2 separate regions of the Homo sapiens genome follow, and region 1 is linked to region 2. The links come from fine-mapping of genetic effects on gene expression. A gene starts in region 2. The other region holds a variant in brackets. All regions are shown on one strand. Distances are from middle to middle. Region 1 holds the start of MIR3945HG (MIR3945 host gene). Region 2 holds the start of ACSL1 (acyl-CoA synthetase long chain family member 1).

Evidence for each region. PIP is the estimated chance that this variant, and not a neighbour inherited with it, causes the effect.
Region 1: its variant is fine-mapped to the expression of ACSL1 in whole blood (TOPMed, PIP above 0.99).

What each region holds. Positions count from the first base shown.
Region 1 is chr4:184,849,595-184,858,529 of GRCh38, reverse strand. It overlaps MIR3945HG (MIR3945 host gene), which reads left to right and starts at 2,878. Exons shown (of 3, transcript NR_132989.1): 1 at 2,878-3,061; 2 at 7,931-8,035. MIR3945 (microRNA 3945) reads left to right here and starts at 7,420; the gene lies at 7,420-7,517. RefSeq lists an enhancer at 7,901-7,970. The variant T/C (reference allele first, on the strand shown) is at 4,814.
Region 2 is chr4:184,821,564-184,830,498 of GRCh38, reverse strand. It overlaps ACSL1 (acyl-CoA synthetase long chain family member 1), which reads left to right and starts at 4,531. Exons shown (of 21, transcript NM_001995.5): 1 at 4,531-4,583. LOC105377587 (a long non-coding RNA gene) reads right to left here and starts at 4,328. Exons shown (of 3, transcript XR_939564.4): 1 at 3,528-4,328. RefSeq lists enhancers at 3,353-3,632, 3,803-3,852, 3,459-3,962, 5,213-5,282 and a silencer at 4,083-5,042.

The sequences.
Region 1 (8,935 bases), 28 kb before region 2:
CCCGAGGTGACGATGTGGAGTTGTGATCCCGGGTCTTCAGAGGATCAGCTGGGACCTTTGGGACCCCGAGGTGACGATGTGGAGTTGTGATCCCGGGTCTTCAGAGGACCAGCTGGGACCTTTGGGACCCCGAGGTGACGATGTGGAGTTGTGATCCCGGGTCTTCAGAGGACCAGCTGGGACCTTTGGGACCCCGAGGTGACGATGTGGAGTTGTGATCCCGGGTCTTCAGAGGACCAGCTGGGACCTTTGGGACCCCGAGGTGACGATGTGGAGTTGTGATCCCGGGTCTTCAGAGGACCAGCTGGGACCTTTGGGAGATGCAGAGCTGCTGCGGCGCTCTTCACATGCACTTGATCTGCTGTGTCCACTAAATCTACCCCACTTCTAACACCCCAGTCCTGGACTCCGTGGGTGCAAAACGTGAGTCTCTGCACCCCTCTTCACATCCCTGGGGGGCTTGAGAATAAGCCAGCAGCCCTGAGCTGGGCTCCTTGGCCTGGCCATGACTGCCAATGAGGGGCCTTGAGTCTGTGTCCTCAGCCCCCAGCCTGTCCCCATTTTGGGGACTTGAACAGACCCACAGTGTCAGTTCCTCCCATAAAAAGATTTCAGGGGACAGCAGCACTTCCTCTTGGCCCCCAGGCACTTGAAGGCCGCCTGCACCCCCCATTCCTAGGCCTTGCCAGCCTGAGGGCAAGCTCCTTACATGACCTGCAGCTTCAGAAACTAGGCCCTCCTCCTTACTTCCCATCACCCATTTTGTCAAAGAACCTAGAATATTTTGTTATCCGAGAAGCCTGGCTTTCGACAAACCGTAGGATTGCTAGTATCTCTTTATGGAGTGGACTTGAACTGTTTATTGCAACTGTGACATGTGGCAAATCATTTTACTGTTCTGAGGCTTTACTTCCTTCTAGTTAGAATGAGCATTAGGCCGGGCATGGTGGCTCACGCTTGTAATCCCAGCACTTTGGGAGGCCAAGGCAGGTGAATCACGAGGTCAGGAGTTCAAGACCAGACTGGCCAAGATGGTGAAACCCCGTCTCTACTAAAAATTCAAAAATTAGCTGGATGTGGTGGCGGGCACCTGTAATCCCAGCTACTCGGGAGGCTGAGGCAGAGAATTGCTTGAACCCGGGAGGCAGAGGTTGCAGTGAGACAAGATCGTGCCACTGCACTCCAGCCTGGGTGACAGAGCAAGACTCCATCTCAAAAAAAAAAGAAAAAAAAAAGAGCATTAAATATATGACATCTTTAAAACTGTGTGGATTTAGAACTGAGGTATCTTCTTTGTTACCTGAGGAGGGAAACATGCTTATGGGGCTAATGTCATTTTAATTTTGGGGTAGGTCTGTCTGTCTTCTGTGGGGTGGGGGAGAGTGAAAATTTTCTCTGCTGTAGGTGAAGACCTCTAGGCTTTATTTTCAACTCATATGCCTCATGCTATTGTTCGAGAATCATCTTTTCTATTCATATAAGCTATATCATACTGATCTTTTTTTTAACCTTATTTATTATTTTTTATTTTTGAGATGGAGTCTCCCCCTGTCACCCAGGCTGGAGTATAGTGGTGCAATCTCAGTTCACTGCAACCTCTGCCTCCAGGGTTCAAGTGATTCCCCTGCCTCAGCCTCCAGAGTAGCTGGGATTACAGGCGCGCACCACCACACCTGGATAATTTTTGTATTTTTAGTAGAGACGGGGTTTCACCATGTTGTCCAGGCTGGTCTCGAACTCGTGACCTCGGGTGATCCGCCCGACTCAGCCTCCCAAAGTGCTGGGATTACAGACATGAGCCACTGCACTCAGCCCCCCTTTTTTTTTTTAACTTTAAAATCCACTTGTGACACTTTTGTAAAATACCATCAACCTTGTGTATTAAGCTACTGTTGTGACAGCCATGATAATTTCCCTCTGAAAATGGTTTGGAGACATGAAATAATAAAAATAACCTTTAAAATGCATTATCACTCTGATTCTATTAGGAAAAACGGAAGTCACTGGATTTAAACTATGTCAATGCCCTGTACTTTCTGTCTGTCAGTAGGTGCTGTAACTGTTGGCTAAATGATTATTTTTCATGCTTCCTTTCTCATTTCTGCTTTTTTAGATATTTAAAATGTCCTTGTTTCTTGGTGAGCAGAATTATTTCCTACCTCATGACCATGAGTCATGACCTTATACTCTTCTTTCAGTACAGGAGAAAGCTTCATTAATTTACTAATGCATTCATTCCACAAGTAAACTTCTGCAATCCTCGTTTATTCATATACTTTGACAAAAACAAAGAGACCCACAAGCTTTTTGAGTCTTCACAACCCAAAACATGTATTTGAAACTGAAAATTCAATCATTCCATGTTTATAGGCATATTGCTTGATAGAAACATATAAATCATTACCTGAATTTTTTTTTTTTTTTTTTTTTTTTGAGACGGAGTCTCACTCTGTCACCCAGGCTGGAGTGCAGTGGTGCAGTCTCAGCTCACTACAACCTCTGCCTCCCGGGTTCAAGCTATTCTCCTGCCTCAGTCTCCTGAGTAGCTGGGATTACAGGCGCCCACCACCACACCCGGCTAATTTTTTTTTTTTAATTTTTAATCGAGACGGAGTTTTACCATGTTGGCCACGCTGGTCTCGAACTCCTGACCTCTGGTGATCCACCCGCCTTGGCCTCCCAAAGTGCTGGGATTACAGGCATGAGCCACCGCGCCCAGCCTGGATTTTTTTTAATCCAACCCAGTTCCATATTTTCCTCTAGAGAGACTGACTCACCAAGCCTATCTCCTTTTCCTGGAAACACAATCAAATTAACTTTCCAGTCACCGCTGTGTCTAGGTGTGGCCATATGAGTAGTTCTCACCAGTGGAATGTAGTGAAAACGAGATGCTGTCTCTTAGGGACTAAGGAAGCTATCTTTCCTCTTCCGACATTTGCTGACTGGTCGATGCTAGATGATCTTGAGACCCTGTGCTGAGGACTGGAGAACTACAGGAAAGGAGCAGTATCTCTGAATTATCGTGTGGAAGGTCACTTGTCTAGCCCCTGATGACTGTGAGGTAAGTCGTTAGGGATCTGGGGTTGTCTGATACAGCAGTTAGCAGGTCCTGACTGACATATCCCTCTTATTCTTTAAGTTGAACAAATTAGAGACTGGAGTGTTTTGGGTAGCCTTGCTATATGGCATGGTCGAAGACGGTGCTTCGCAGGTGATTTACAACCCTCCTACCATTTACTCTGTCTTCATTTCAAGCAGTATAACCTATAATTTCCTAATCTTCAGCAGAATAGGAAAAGGGGCTCAAAGCCACAAACACACACGCTTCCTTTCAATGTACCTTTGTTGCTCAGCCACAGTGGCGAGTTCACGCGCCTGGCAAGACCTCTCCCTATTTGGGCATTTTGTGAATACAGAAGAATGGGCGCCCTGGTGTGACCCAACATCAGAATCCAAAACATGGCATCTTTACCTAGCCCTTTTCGCTTCTTTTAGATCATTCAATAAACATAATCTGTTTTCTTTCAAAATAACATGGTTATCTAATTCCCTTCATTAGCAGCTAGCAAAAGAGGCCCTGGGCTTCCCGTGAGCTAATTCACTGGGTCCCTGAGGTCGTTGCGGGCTTTCCCTCTCACTCTTGCAACAGACACAATCTCACTTCTTTAATGTAAAGTATGGTTTTTCTGTCGAAATGTGCTTCCTGTTTTCTTTATCGTAACTTACAGGCATGATTGCCTGGGTCTTCTCTCATTATTCCCAGTCCACTGCCTCTTCATATTTAGTGGTACTTCTGTCTTACTGGTCCCTGGAAATTTATCTCAGATCATTTCCTTTTGGGTCTATCTCTTCTTTAAGAGAAATAATTTTAAAGTCAAAGCTCCATAATACAGAGATCTGTTCTCTTTCCCACCATCTGTTTTCTGAACCTCCCCTCCTGGTTCAAGCCTCTGTAGGATAATTTGAACACAAACCATTGACTGCCAACTGAAATCGAACAAGATAATGTCCAATTTGCCCTTTTTTCTCTCTGATTTGTCCCAATGTTTACATTTCTCCATCAATCAATGAACAAATCACTTTGGTACAGTGTGCCAGTAGCTTTGAGAGGAGCACAGAAGCAATACAAGCAAGCTCACCAGTAACTTATGAGGCTCGCTTACCCAAAGCCATTCAAGAATAAGACAGTAGATAACACCAGCCACCTGGTGTATATAGAAAGTGCATTCAGAGGGCCGGGCACGGTGGCTCACGCCTGTAATCCCAGCACTTTGGGAGGCCGAGGCGGGCAGATCACGAGGTCAGGAGATCGAGACCATCCTGGCTAACACGGTGAAACCCCGTCTCTACTAAAAATGCAAAAAATTAGCTGGGCGTGGTGGTGGGCGCCTGTAGTCCCAGCTACTCGGGAGGCTGAGGCAGGAGAATGGCATGAACCCGGGAGGCGGAGCTTGCAGTGAGCCGAGATCGCGCCACTGCACTCCAGGCTGGGCGACAGAGCGAGACTCTGTCTCAAAAAAAAAAAAAAGAAAAAAGAAAGTGCATTCAGAATTGGGGAGGGGAGAGATCAATGTGTGTTAGAGCCAAGGAAACATTTAGTAAAGATGGAATTTAGCCCTTAAGGACTGTCAGGCCAGAGCAATAGGAAGTACAAACATTTCATATGTAGAGAATAACACGAACAAGGCACAAGAGCAGAAATATGAGTAACAGCCTCAGTGGGTCCTATTCGTTATGCACCTATCATGTCCCTTGCACTATGCCGGGCCCTTTGCACTCATTATATACGATGCTCACAGCAATCCTGAGATTG[T/C]GAGGCGGGTATTTTACAAATACAAGAAGTCAGTTTTAGAGAAGTACTAAATGGCAGACTCAGGATTCATGTCTGCACTTCATTCACTGCGTAGGAAGGTGAGGGTGGTTAAGGAGGTGCCACTCTGGGAGCAGAAGGCAGTCACTGGAGCAGATCAGTGGAGCTACGTTACGGAGATCCGGGATGGTCCGTGAGGATGCTGGGCCTCACCTGGTAAGCAACAGGGACTGCTGTAGAAGCTTTAGCACAGAAATAGGATGACAAACTTTAGTCAGACAAAATCTGAGTTCAAGGCCGTGTTCTGTGTTAGCTGTGTGACTGGGAACCACCGTTAAACCTGCTGAGATTGTTTCCTCCTCTATAAAATGTGTTCAACAGCAATATCAATGTATAACATTGAAAGGCTTAAATGAGATTTTACTAAAGCACCTGAGATATAGTTAGCATTTACTATATGATAGAGGTTGTTGCTGTTACTACTGCTACTACCACCACCACTGCTACCACAACAGCACTTAAGGAAGGATGATAATCTGGAGAAAAACAGCTAACAGATATTTCGTGAAGACATGAAATGAGATGGCATAGATAGATAGATAGATAGATAGATAGATAGATAGAGTTATATGCCATTTGGTTATATATACATAATCAAAACTTGACTCTGGGAGTATAGATGAATAAAGGTGAATTAGAATCTAGTATAAAGAGAGAAGATCGGAGAATGAGGATTGACACATCTGGGGCACCCACAGTTGGGGAGCGGGACACGGGAGAGAGTCAGTGACAGACACAAGGAAAATGCAGAGGAAGAGGTAAGATGGTCACGTAGACCACAGCAGTCAGGTAACAGAAGAGGTTCCTCAAAAGGCTAGGGAGGTCTACTGTGCCCAGGGCTGCTGTGGGGAGAAAAGATTGAGGACTAGGAAAAGGCTTGTGCAGTTGGGGCAGTGACAACATGGAACACAGACTGGGAGGAACCAGGTGGGAATAAAAGACACTGGCCACAGCCACAGGCACTGCTCATTCATCTGAGGTGTAAGTATAGAGAGAGAACTCGGCTGTGGCTTGGAAGTAACAGCAAGACAAAGAAGGAGGTTATTTTTAGTTCTTGGAGAGGCCAATACCGCTGGTAATCATGAGCGAGCTTCAGTTCATCTCTACCCCTTACTATGGTGCAACTCCTCATGGACTGGTTCCTGAGCCTGCACCCTCTTAGGGTGCAGGTTAGTCCTGCACTTAGTCTGGCTTCTGTTAACTTGTTTTCTCTTTCAGGTCTCACTGTTGCTAACCCCACTCATCAACTTGATCTGTTTGCCCCCAATCCCACCATTTTGCATGACATTATGGATCCTCTGATCTTTAACAAATCCATCCAAGATTGTCTGTTTCTTCTTCTAAGGTGTCACCAGGAATGAAGATTCTTTCACCTAATTTATTTTTTTCTGGTTTCACACGTGTCTGAAAAAATAATAGCAATTATTATTATTATCATTGTAGGATTCATTTCACTCCTCTCAAACACATTCAAAAAGTCTCTTCATCTCTTCCATCATGGTGATGCTCAACTGTTACCCAACTATCCAACTGTATCTTGGAGTTTTGTAATTCCATCATGAGTTGTACTCAACTGTTATCCAACATATCTTGGAGCATGCACCAGGATGCTCCCTGACACAGCTCACTTTGCAAGTAATTCTTAGACACACACTTTCTCCACCAGGCCTGTCTAGTTGAAGTTCTCTATATCCCTGCCCCCCTCCCCACCCTGGTTAAGCATAGGACTTCCATGGTTACATCCCATTTATTCCTTTCCCAAACATGCTTAATGCATTTCATCTCCAGTTACAAACATCGTCTGCTAATGAACAATGTAGATAGTTACCATGTTGTATAAATAGTTACTTATTTCCCTTCGTTGTTGGTTTTATCCAATAAACTAGCCCGATCAGCTTCATTTTATATCACCTTATCTCATACAGATGAGAAACTGTATGTATTTCAGCCTGTCTAAACTGGAGGTAACGCTAGACTGCAGTATCCCTGCACAGTGTCGTATTAGAAATGGCACCCTATAAATTTTTTATGAGTTAATAATGATTGTGATCCCATTCCTATTTTCTACAAGTTCTTCTGTTATGGTGGCAATTAAATAGCCTCACCTTCCTTTCACTTTCTGCAAACCTGCTGCAAGTCATCATTAACTTTCTTAATTGGTAGCGGCTCTGAATTCCAGTCTTTCAGAGTTCCCGTAAACAGCATCTTTCTTAATACTTATGTCATAATGTTTTTCTCCTTTCCTTGCATTTCATTCTGCCTTTGGGCAGGAACAGCATCATTTCCTGCTCTTCTGGGGTTTCAACACTGACTGCAAAGCACCCTTGCTCATCTCACTGGGAGATTCTGCAGCCAAGCAGAGATTTGCATAAAGCCCATCCACCCTTCACCAGCACAGGATACGCAGACTTAACTGCAGGGACTCTTGGTGACTAGTCTCTGTGGTGCACACTCTCCACCCTACCACCAAAAAGGTCCCCAGTACCCTAAAAGGAACTATGTACTCAAATATCACCTCAAATAAGATGAGGTCTTTCTGAGAGAAAAGAGATGTTGATGCACGTGACGGGGAGGGCATAGGAGAGGGTTGATATAAAATGCAATTACAGCCTCTTATGCTTTCCAAAGTGGGGGATGATTCAATGATTCCTGACTGGTCCACAGCCATATATCAATTGAGGTTATAATACTAATTTGAATTGCAAATCTCTGAAAAGAAGGGGACAAGCTAAGGAGATAAAATTTAACAGGGTGAGTCCTGAATTTAGATTTAAACAAACTCCACAAGTATAAGAAGGCAGAGGCTGGCAACAGTACTTGCTGTCATGTTTAGTCGGCCACTGGTCAGTCTGAGACAGCAGTGGGTGTGATCGTGTAGCAGCTATGGAAAGCTTATGCTGCATTTAATAATAATAGTCATACTTTAAAGCATGTTTCAGTTATGAATTCATTCTGACCAGAAAAGTAACTTGCACTAGCTTAACAGTCAAATAGCAAGAAGCATAGAGAAGTGGCCGCTTGCTGTGCTTCAGCAGCTCAACAGTGTCTCTATTCTCTTAGCCTCTTCCTCCTGCTTGCCACCTCTCAGTCACAAGACGGCTGCTGCGACTCAGGCTCATGTCCCAATTCAAGGCAGCAAGAAGGCCATGGAGCGGCACCTGCCAGGTATGTCCCTTTCCCAGGCATCCCCAGCAGATTTCTCACTGTCTGAAACTGCATCCCACGGCGTTCTTAGGTGCGAGGCTGGTCTGGAGAGTCAATGCTTGGGTTTTCCAATACCTGCATGGGACATGGGCAAGATGGAAGGGAGTTGGGTTTAGGAAACCAGTAGTGCCAGCCCTTTACTCGTATCATATCTGATCCCCACAGCAACCCTGAGGAGTAGCTATTTATCATCCTTATTGAGCAAATGAAGAAAATCAGAACCAGCAACATCAAGAAAAAATGAGGAAAGACATACATTAGTAAATAATAAAGCCAGGGTTCCAATTCAGATCAGGTTGAATCCAAAATTCCTCTCCCTGCCATTATAACGCATCACAGTGTTCAGGTCATGTGGGTCTGGGAAGGATGAATCATATTCAACTATCCCACCACGTTTTTGGCCATTTTTTAAAAACTAAAGTATAACACACATCTTGTTATGTTAACACTGACATCTTGAGAATATTAAATCTTCCAATCCATGAACATAGACTGTTTTTACATTTATTTGGTTTCTTCTTTGATTTATTTCAACAAAGCTTTGTAGTTTTCACAGTATAAGTTTTGTACATCTTTGTTAAATTTACTTCTAAGTATTTTAGAATTTTTATCTTAAGTGAAATTACTTTCTTAATTTCATTTTTGGTTTGCTCATTGCTACTGTATACAATACAATTAATATTTGTACATTGCTCTTAATCCTGTAACCTTGCCGGACCTTATTCATTTTAAGTTTGTTCTTTGAATATGTGAAACATTAAAAAGATTTTAAAAGCCAGAACTATACACAAAGGTATTGTCCTTGTAATTTTATATCTGATTGGAAGAATTCTCCACAGACTAGCTTCTGGCGATGTACTT
Region 2 (8,935 bases):
GCAGGGGAGTAAGAAAGACTGGGATGGTTCATGAGGATTCACGGGACACACTGCCTCCTTCCAGTCCCTTACAGTTTCATGGGGGCATGGATGTATGCCTAATATAGTTGCAGTCCCAAAATGGATTGAACAAAAAGAACTCAGTTACTGATGCCAATCTTCCTTTAACCAGCCAATTACCGAGGTCTGTAATTAAAAGCTCATCGGCCATTATTAATTGATGTGGCTATACTTCAGATAGCCATGCTCAAAAGCAATAGGTGCAGAAGATTAATAATAATCACAGCTTTGTAGTTCCTAATCACAAGTGGGAACTTTTGAGACAAGGCCACTGTAAACCTGCTAATCAGCTTGACCCAGAAAGACTTCGATTCTTTTTTTCTTTTCTTTCTTTCTTTTTTTTTTTTGATGTGGTCTTGCTCTGTTGCCCATGCCAAAGTGCAATGGTGCAATCACGGTTCACTGCAGTCTCGACCTCCTGGGTTCAAGAGATCCTCCCACCTCAGCCTCCCATGTAGCTGGGACTATAGGCTACAGGTGCACACCACCATGCTGGGCTAAGTTTTGTATTTTTTGTAGAGACAGGATCTCGCCATGTTGCTCACACTGGTCTCAAACTCCTGGGCTGAAGTGATCCGCCGACCTTGGCCTCCCAACATGCTGGGATTACAGGCATGTGCCACTGCACCCGGCCCAGTTCTCTTTAGCTTCTCCAGGAGATTGATCAATCGGTGTTAGGCAGATGTCAATGTGGATTTAGCCAGAATTAGCCACAACATTTTAATCAGGCCAAAATGTAACAAGGGCAGGAGTGACCGAAAAAAGACTCAAATTTCCGCTAGGAAATTTGCACCACTACAATATCCAATTGGCTCTTATTCCCTTGGCTAGAGAGATGCTTGAAAAAAAAGACAGTAGAAAGGAGGGTTAAGACTGGTTTCTTAAAGAAGTAAGTACAAGGAAGTATAAGTTCATGCTGCCTGCTTCTAAAAGAATTCTATTCCTCATAACTACATAACATTATAATGCTACTGATTCATAAGGAGTTTAGATTAATTCTATTGGAGAGGACACCAGGATTATTAGTGTTTATTTTCATCTAGGATCTTTATTCTTTAATGCTGTTGGTCCCACAGACACATTTCAGTATACAAAAACACTGCAGTGTTAATAGCCAAAAGAAAAGCCATTATGATGTGAATAGTGGTCATTGTGATCACTGTGACACAATTTTTAAAAACTTTTTCTTAGAGACGGAGGGTCTCACTATGTTGCTCAGGCTGGTCTTGAATTCCCGGACTCAAGCAATCCTCCTGCATTTGCCTCCCAAAGTGCTGGGATTACAGGTGTGAGCCACCGCACCTGGCCCAATTTTTAAAAACAATCATGTCCTTCATTTAAAAAAAAAAAAAAAAAAAAGGCCGGGCGCGGTGGCTCACGCCTGTAATCCCAGCACTTTGGGAGGCCAAGGCGGGTGGATCACGAAGTCAGGAGATCGAGACCATCCTGGCTAACACAATGAAACCCCATCTCTACTAAAAATACAAAAAACTAGCCGGGTGTGGTGGTGGGTGCCTGTGGTCCCAGCTACTTGGGAGGCTGAGGCAGGAAAATGGCATGAACCCAGGAGGTAGAGATTGCAGTGAGCCGAGATCGCACCACTGCACCCCAGCCTGGGCAACAGAGTGAGACTCCGTCTCAAAAAAAGAGACTGGTTTCTTACCTAAGTCACAAACTCCCAACTATAGAGTCTGGAATCTTCATTTAATGAGAACGCCAAGGGCGTGGCTGTCAATCCTATGACACCTGTCTGAGGTAGGTATTATTCCTGATTTAAGGAGGATGCAATGAGGCTTGATGTGGATTCACCCACCCCAAAGCCTGTGTTCTTAACCACTATGCAATACTGCCTCCCATCAAAGTCTCTATCTCAAGTCCACAAGACAACCCCATACATTGTAAAACTTTTTGGAGTGATTAGATAAAAACTTTTTTGTTTTTTTTTAAGTGTGTGTGCTGAAAGAGACCTAAGAGATTATTTAGCCAAGCCCCCTTATAGCCTGAGGAGAAATCTAGGTTCTAAGGAATGAAGTTGCTTCCCAATGTCACCTAGAAGTTCCTGCCAGAAGGAGTGTGAACTCAGGTCTGATACTGGGTTGTGTGCCTTTCCCAGCCTTGAGTTGGAAATCACCTCATTAAGGGCTAGAGCCCAGGGAGAGGCACCCAGTTTAAAAGAAAAGTGTCTTGAGGAGAAGACGTAAGGTGAGACAGCCAGTGACGACCATCCACATGTTACGGGTTGAATTGTCACCCCCACATTCCCCAAGTTCATATGTTCAGGGGTTTGTTGTTGTTGTTGTTGTTGTTTTGAGACAGAGTCTTGCTCTGTCTCCCAGGCTGGAATGCAGTGGCGTGATCTTGGCTCATTGCAACCTCCACCTCCCTGGGTTCAAACAATTCTTCTGCCTCAGCCTCCCGAGTAGCTGGGACTACAGGTACGCACCACCATGCCCCGCTAATTTTTTTATTTTTAGTAGAGACAGGGTTTCACCATGTTGGCCAGGCTGGTCTTGAACTCCTGACCTCAGTTGATCTGCCTGCCTCGGCCTCCCAAAGTGCTGGGATTACAGGCATGAACCACCGTGCCTGGGCATTCAGGTATCTTAGAATGGGACCTTACTTGGACATTACCTCATGATTACAGAGGTCATCAAGTTAAAATGAGGCAATTCGGGTGGGCCCTAGTCCAGTATGACTGGTGTCCTTATAGAAAGAAGGGATTTGCACACACACACCACAGGGAAGATGGTGTGAGGAGACATAGGGAGAAGATGGGCATCTGCAAGTCAGAGTGGCCGGGCACACATGCTCTTTCATGGGCCTCGGAAGCAGCCAGCCCTCCCACGCCGTGATTTTGTACTTCTAGTCTCCAGAACCAGGACAGACCATACATTTCGGTTGTTGAAGCCACTTAGTGTGTGGTACTTCGTTCCAGCAGCCCTTGAAAACAATAGACCACAGAACTTGGGAGGTGCCTGCAGAGGTTCTGGGGCTGAGGGACCGGTTGGAGAAGAGGAAAAAGGAGAGGCAAAGATGACAAAATCACGGATGGGGAGGCGAGATCTGGACAGAAAAACCAGGGATTAGCCAAGCGGGAACCAGTGAAAACGAACGTGGAGTCCATTTTTTCTAGATCTGGAAGATGGAGATCTAAAAGGACTGAGCTGCTAGAGAGGTTGCTGGTGTGTGCGTTGTCCTCACCCCACTGCACCACTGCGCCCAGCACACTGTGGGAGACACCCAGGGAAAGTCCTTCAGTTATTTGTGGGAGTGAACTGCAGTGTGGCTGAGGCCTGGAGCGAACCACGGTCAGTTTCCCCTGCCTGCAGCCCAGGCATAGCCCTGCGTTGGTTGTGCCCACACTCTGGGGGCAGCCTGAGTGCCAAGTGTGGTACTGCTCTCACTAGCATTTAACCTCTGTGCCCCAGCTTCCTCTTCTGTGAAAGGACAGTAATGACAGTACCTACCTCACTGGGTTATGAAGATTAAATAGAATAATGTGTACGCAGTGTTTGTAGCAATGCCTGGCATCAAGCACTGGGTAAACAGTATCTATTATTATCAAAGGCCTTTACGACAACAATCATTCTTCAAACGGCCCTCCAGCGAACGCTGGGCGCAAACTCCACGGTAACGGGGACCAATGTTGTTAGAGGTTGAGGTTCCTGGTAGGTCCCAGGTGCTAAAAGGAAGAGCAGCCTTTGGGATGTGAGCCCGAAAACCATCGTGTTGGCTTCTGAAGCCCCAAGATGGGCATGGCAGGGACGCGGAAGCCCTCAGAACCGCGGAAGCCCTCAGAACCGCACAGCAGGTGGCCGCCGTGGTGCAGCGCGCAGTCGGCCCTCAGCTCCCCTGCACCGGCGCGAGCTGCGGGCGCTGCCCACGTCAGGCTCTGCAGACACCAGACAGAAAAGGTCTTCCGGCCAGGGAGCGTGGGGGAAACCCTGTGGGGCCGCGCCCGTCAGTGTCAAGGAAAAACGGAGAGGAAGGCCCTTGCCTCCAGGGCCCTCGCAGCAGAATTCTGCCCGGCCTGCCAGGAGGCCAGCGGGGCACGGGCTGAGGGTGCAGGATCCGGAGGGCGCCGCCCGCCCCTCGGGCATCGCGGGGCCCAGGGTCCGCGGGGCCTCTGAGCTGAGGCGGTCCAATGTACCCTTTGTCCTTCCTCAGATTCATTATGAAATCCGAGGCAGTCTGGGCGACTCCAGCGGCGTTCGCCCGCCGCAGCCTCTCGACCGCCGGCCACCCGCCAGCCACGCGCGCCCAGACAGGAGGGCGGCCGGGCGCTCGGCGGGGCGGGGCCTGCCGGGGGCGGGGCCTGCGGGCGGGGCGGGGCCGCGGGAGGGCGGGGCCGGCGCGGCGAGCGCACCAGCAGCATCCTGGCTCAGCCGCGGCGGTGGCGGGGGCGCAACCAGCGGGCCGAGGCGGCGGCGCCAGCGGCGCCTTAAATAGCATCCAGAGCCGGCGCGGGGCAGGGAGTGGGCTGCAGTGACAGCCGGCGGCGGAGCGGCCGGTCCACGGAGGAGGTGAGTGCGCCCGCCGTGCGGAGCCGCGCCTGCTCCCGCGGCGGTGCCCGGGCCCCGGCCGAGGCGCCGGCTGACGTTGCCCTTCAGGGCCGAGCCCGGAGCAGCGGCCGCCGCGGAGGCGCGTGAGCCACCCCAGGCTCGTGGGGCCGCGCCGCCTTTCCGGCCTCCTGCCCGCGGCCCCGCTTCCCTCGGCAGCCGGAGGCCTCCGGGGTGCCCGTGCTGCCGCAGCTTCCTGTGTCTGAGTCGCGGGCGGCGCGGGCGCGGGGCTGGTGCGCGGCCGGGGATGCGCGCGGGACCGACCCTTGTGTGTGCGGCGGCGGGGACCGGCCCGGCGAAGCAGCCGGAGGCCGCGCTTCGGCTGGGAGGAGGTGGCCCAGCTGGGCCGCTGACGTTGCCCTCGTCCGCGGCCCCCGCCTGCCCAGAGGCCGGGCTCGCGGGCGTTCGGACCGCGCGTGGGGCGAGACTGCACTCGCGCCCGCTGAGATGCCGGCCCCACGCAGCGCGGCGGCACGAGGCCCACAGGCAGCTCAGAGGCCGCTGCCAGAGGCAGACATTCTCTCGGTGACTCCAGAGGAGTGCCCGTGGCCCTTGCACTTGGCCGTGGAGTCATTGATCTAAGGAGTGCTGGCATTTTTTGAAATTGAGAAGCAAAGATGATGTCTGTCACCTGGCAGCGTAGACGGAGAGTGGCGGTAGATGACTTGAATGGACACGTGGATTCGAGTCTGGGGACAGGCGTTCCCCCAGTCGGTGCGTTGTGAGAGTGTGGAAACCCCTTCCCCACTCAGTCCAATTTCAAGGTTATGGAGCATAATTAAGAGTGACCATTCTAAAAGCGTTCTCTAGTGCCCTGGCTAAGACTTTTAAGCTTCTTGGTGCAGGAGTGTCTAAAGTCCCGCGACTCTCACTGCCCTGTCTTTTATTTTCTTGACCTTTGATTAGCGTTGAGAGAAACTGGTTAAATCTTGCAGTTTCTGCCACCCATTTCACAACTTAACCTGTGATTGTCCCAAAGAAAACAATTATTGGCTTCTTGCTAGCAAAAAAATCAAAGGCTTCCGGTTGATTGTTTCTTTCTTTTTTTTCTTTTTTCAAGTGGACGTGGAAGGTTAGGCTGGCTAAAACTTAAAGTTTGAGTTGTAGGTCTGTGCTGGGTAGGCTTGAGAAGATGGAGCTTTTTAAGGAACCATTGCTCGCCATCAGATTGGAGCCAGACAGTGCAGTGTGATATAGTGGAAAAGGACCAGGTCTTGGGAGACTTACTTTCTTGTTCTGACTCAACTCGGAAAACACCTCCCTAGTCTGAGGCCCCCCTCCTTATATTTGTGAACAAACTGCATTAGACTAAAATCTTTCACGAGTCCAAATTCTGCGACTAGAAAAATAAACTTGTTAGCCGCACACCTTATACCTCTCCCCTTTAAAACAGACATATTAAAGACTTCTGTTTTCTGAATTTACTGTAAACAGAATACTTAAAAAAAAATTACCCAGACAGGCGTGGTGGCTCACTGTAATCCCAGCACTTTGGGAGACCGAGGCGGGCAGATCATTTGAGGTCAGGAGTTCGAGACCAGCCTGACCAACATGGAGAAACCCTATCTCTACTAAAAATACAAATAATTAGCCAGGCGTGGTGGCATGCATCTCTAGTCCCAGCTACTCGAGAGGCTGAGCCAGGAGAATCGCTTGAACTCAGGAGGCAGAAGTTGTGATGAGCTGAGATCCCGCCACTGCACTCCAGACTGGGCAACAGAGCAGGACTCTGTAAAAAACAAAACAAAACAAAAAATTACCCTTCCCCACAATTATAAGCATTTTGGCATATTTCCTTCCTGTCTCTGTTGTTCCTATTTTGGCAGTATTTTTATTGTTATCGCAGGCAGCCTGACTGAAAAGAAATCTGGGCTTCTAAGTTTTTGGTATTTAGGAGGTAGATACAAGTGACCCATGCATGTAGGGTTAGGTATCTATTTATACCATGCAGGTAGAGTTTTCATAGCCACCTCTACTTTTGGGTGAAGTTTAGGCTAACTGAAAGTGTACCAGCATGCATGGTGTATGCAGAAAAATGAACGTAATTCAGATTATGTGATAGTTTTCTCTTGTTGCCATTATATATAACCCAGGGCTTACCACAAACTGAAATTTCTTATGCATTGACATTTAGCATTTGATGTAAAATGACTATCTCAGAGTTGCTGCCACAAACACTGGTAAAACTGTCCCTACTTTCTAGCATGCTTAATGTCTAGGTCTTGCTACATCTTTTTTGATGTAACTGTTTTGTGGAAAATGGTTGTGTGTTTGGGGAGGCTTTTGAGAAAAGATAAGGTTGTCTTGTCATTATAACTGGGTATTTCTCCTCTCTCCCTTCCAGTTTCACTTGTCTGGAAATAGCAAGACTATAGGAGTAGTAATTTCTAGATATTTATAGTCAGTAACCTTAGAGGAATGTTTAGTTTTTAAGATCAATTGAATTTATTGTGTAAGTTTGCCATTTAAAACAGGTGCCCATTTGTGTTTACTGTCTCTTGTAACCAAACTCTGTTCAATTAGAATCCATTAGTAATGTTTTGTGGAGAGTCTTGTTTGGATGATGCAGTGCATGAGGCTCCTGTACTACAAAATAGAAAAGAAGTTCCTCTAAGGCAGCTCAAAGCTGTTGATATCCTGAAGCCTTTTTAGGCCTCCCTCTCTGACAGGCGGTGATCTGACAGGAGGTAGATAAAGGTGCCGGAGTTTTTAGTGAAGGTTGGCAGTCCAACTTGGTAGTCAGACAAACACATGATGGTCAAAAGTGCCTTTGACACTGGGGCCTGGAGAAGAATTCTCAGTGGCCAGAGCTGATCTGAAGCTGCAGGCAGTTGAGTTTGAGTTTCAACATGTTGGTACTTCAAGGGGCTTCTGAAAAGTTTTAAAGGAGCACAAGCCCTGAAGGAGTAGCTGAACTTAGTGAACTGGAGAAGGCAGGGGCAGTTTTACCAGGGTTTGTGGCAGCGACTCTAAGATTGTCATTTTACATCAAATGCTGAATGTCAATGCATAAGAAATTTCAGTTTGTGGCAAGCCTTGGGTTGTATATAATGGCAAGAAGAGAAAACTATCACATAATCTGAGTTATGTTCATTTTCTACATCATGACATTTTCACTTTCTTTTTTTTTTCTTTTTTCCCAGATAAGGTCTCACTCTGTCGCCCAGGTTGGAGTACAGGCATGATCATGGCTCGTTGCAGCCTCTCCACCTCCCTGGGCTCAGTTGATCCTCCCACTTCAGCCTCTCCAGTAGCTTAGACTACAGGCGCACATCACTATGCCCAGCTAATTTTTGTATTTTTTTCGTAGTGAAGCGGTTTTGCCATATTGCCCAGTTGTCTCGAACTCCTGGGCTCAAGCGATTTGCCCTCCTTGGCCTCCCCAAAGTGCTAGGATTACAGGCGTGAGCCACTGCACCCAGCCCACTTTCATGTTCTTGACTGTGTTAGAAACAACACAGTATTGATTCACTTATGACCTTTGAGGAATCAAGAGGGGCGGGTGAAATATTGGAGACTCCTTGAAGTGTGGCTGGCTTGGAGGGTGTCACCCTTGGACAAAAACTTAAGTGGAGGTGAGTAAGGGCCCTGCTCCCCTGTGCTGCCTGCCTTAGAAGGATGTGATCATCTGGAGGCAAATAGCTTGTTGCTTGAGGCCAGGAGTTCAAGACCAGCCTGGGCAACAGAGCAAGACCCCATCTCTAGAAAAAAAAAAGTAAAAACAATAAAATAAAATCTCAAAACTGGTGGTTCCATATAGGTGCCTGGGCTGATTCTCTTTATGAATTATTTGCTGGTCTTCAAGTTTAAATAAAATTCTGAAAGCTGTCTAATATCTAAAAACCACTTGCCACAGAAAAGCTGTATTTGTTTTTCATATTTTAAGAGTCATACATACTTACTGGAGAAAATTTGGGAAATAGGAAAAATGAAGCTCTTCCAGAGATTAAATACTATTAACATTTTGTTATATTTCCTTCCAGTCTTTTTTCCCTATACAATAAACAAATTTTAAGCATACATTGTTAATTAAAGATTACAATTTTGACAATTTAACTTTATCACCTAAGTTATATTGTGGGCTTTTTTACACGTTGTTACATATTCTTCAAAAAATAAGTTCTGAAGATGACTGCATTATTTGCTGTATGGGCCATAATTTAGTTACTTCTCCCCATTTGTTGGATATTTTTCAGAACAGTTTACCAACCTTTGTTATATGTTTAAATACGTCTTTAAAAAATAAAAAATGTTCTGCTTTAAAACTCTTGAAATTAACAATAATTTGAAAAGTGTTTTTACTAATGAATAGGTTT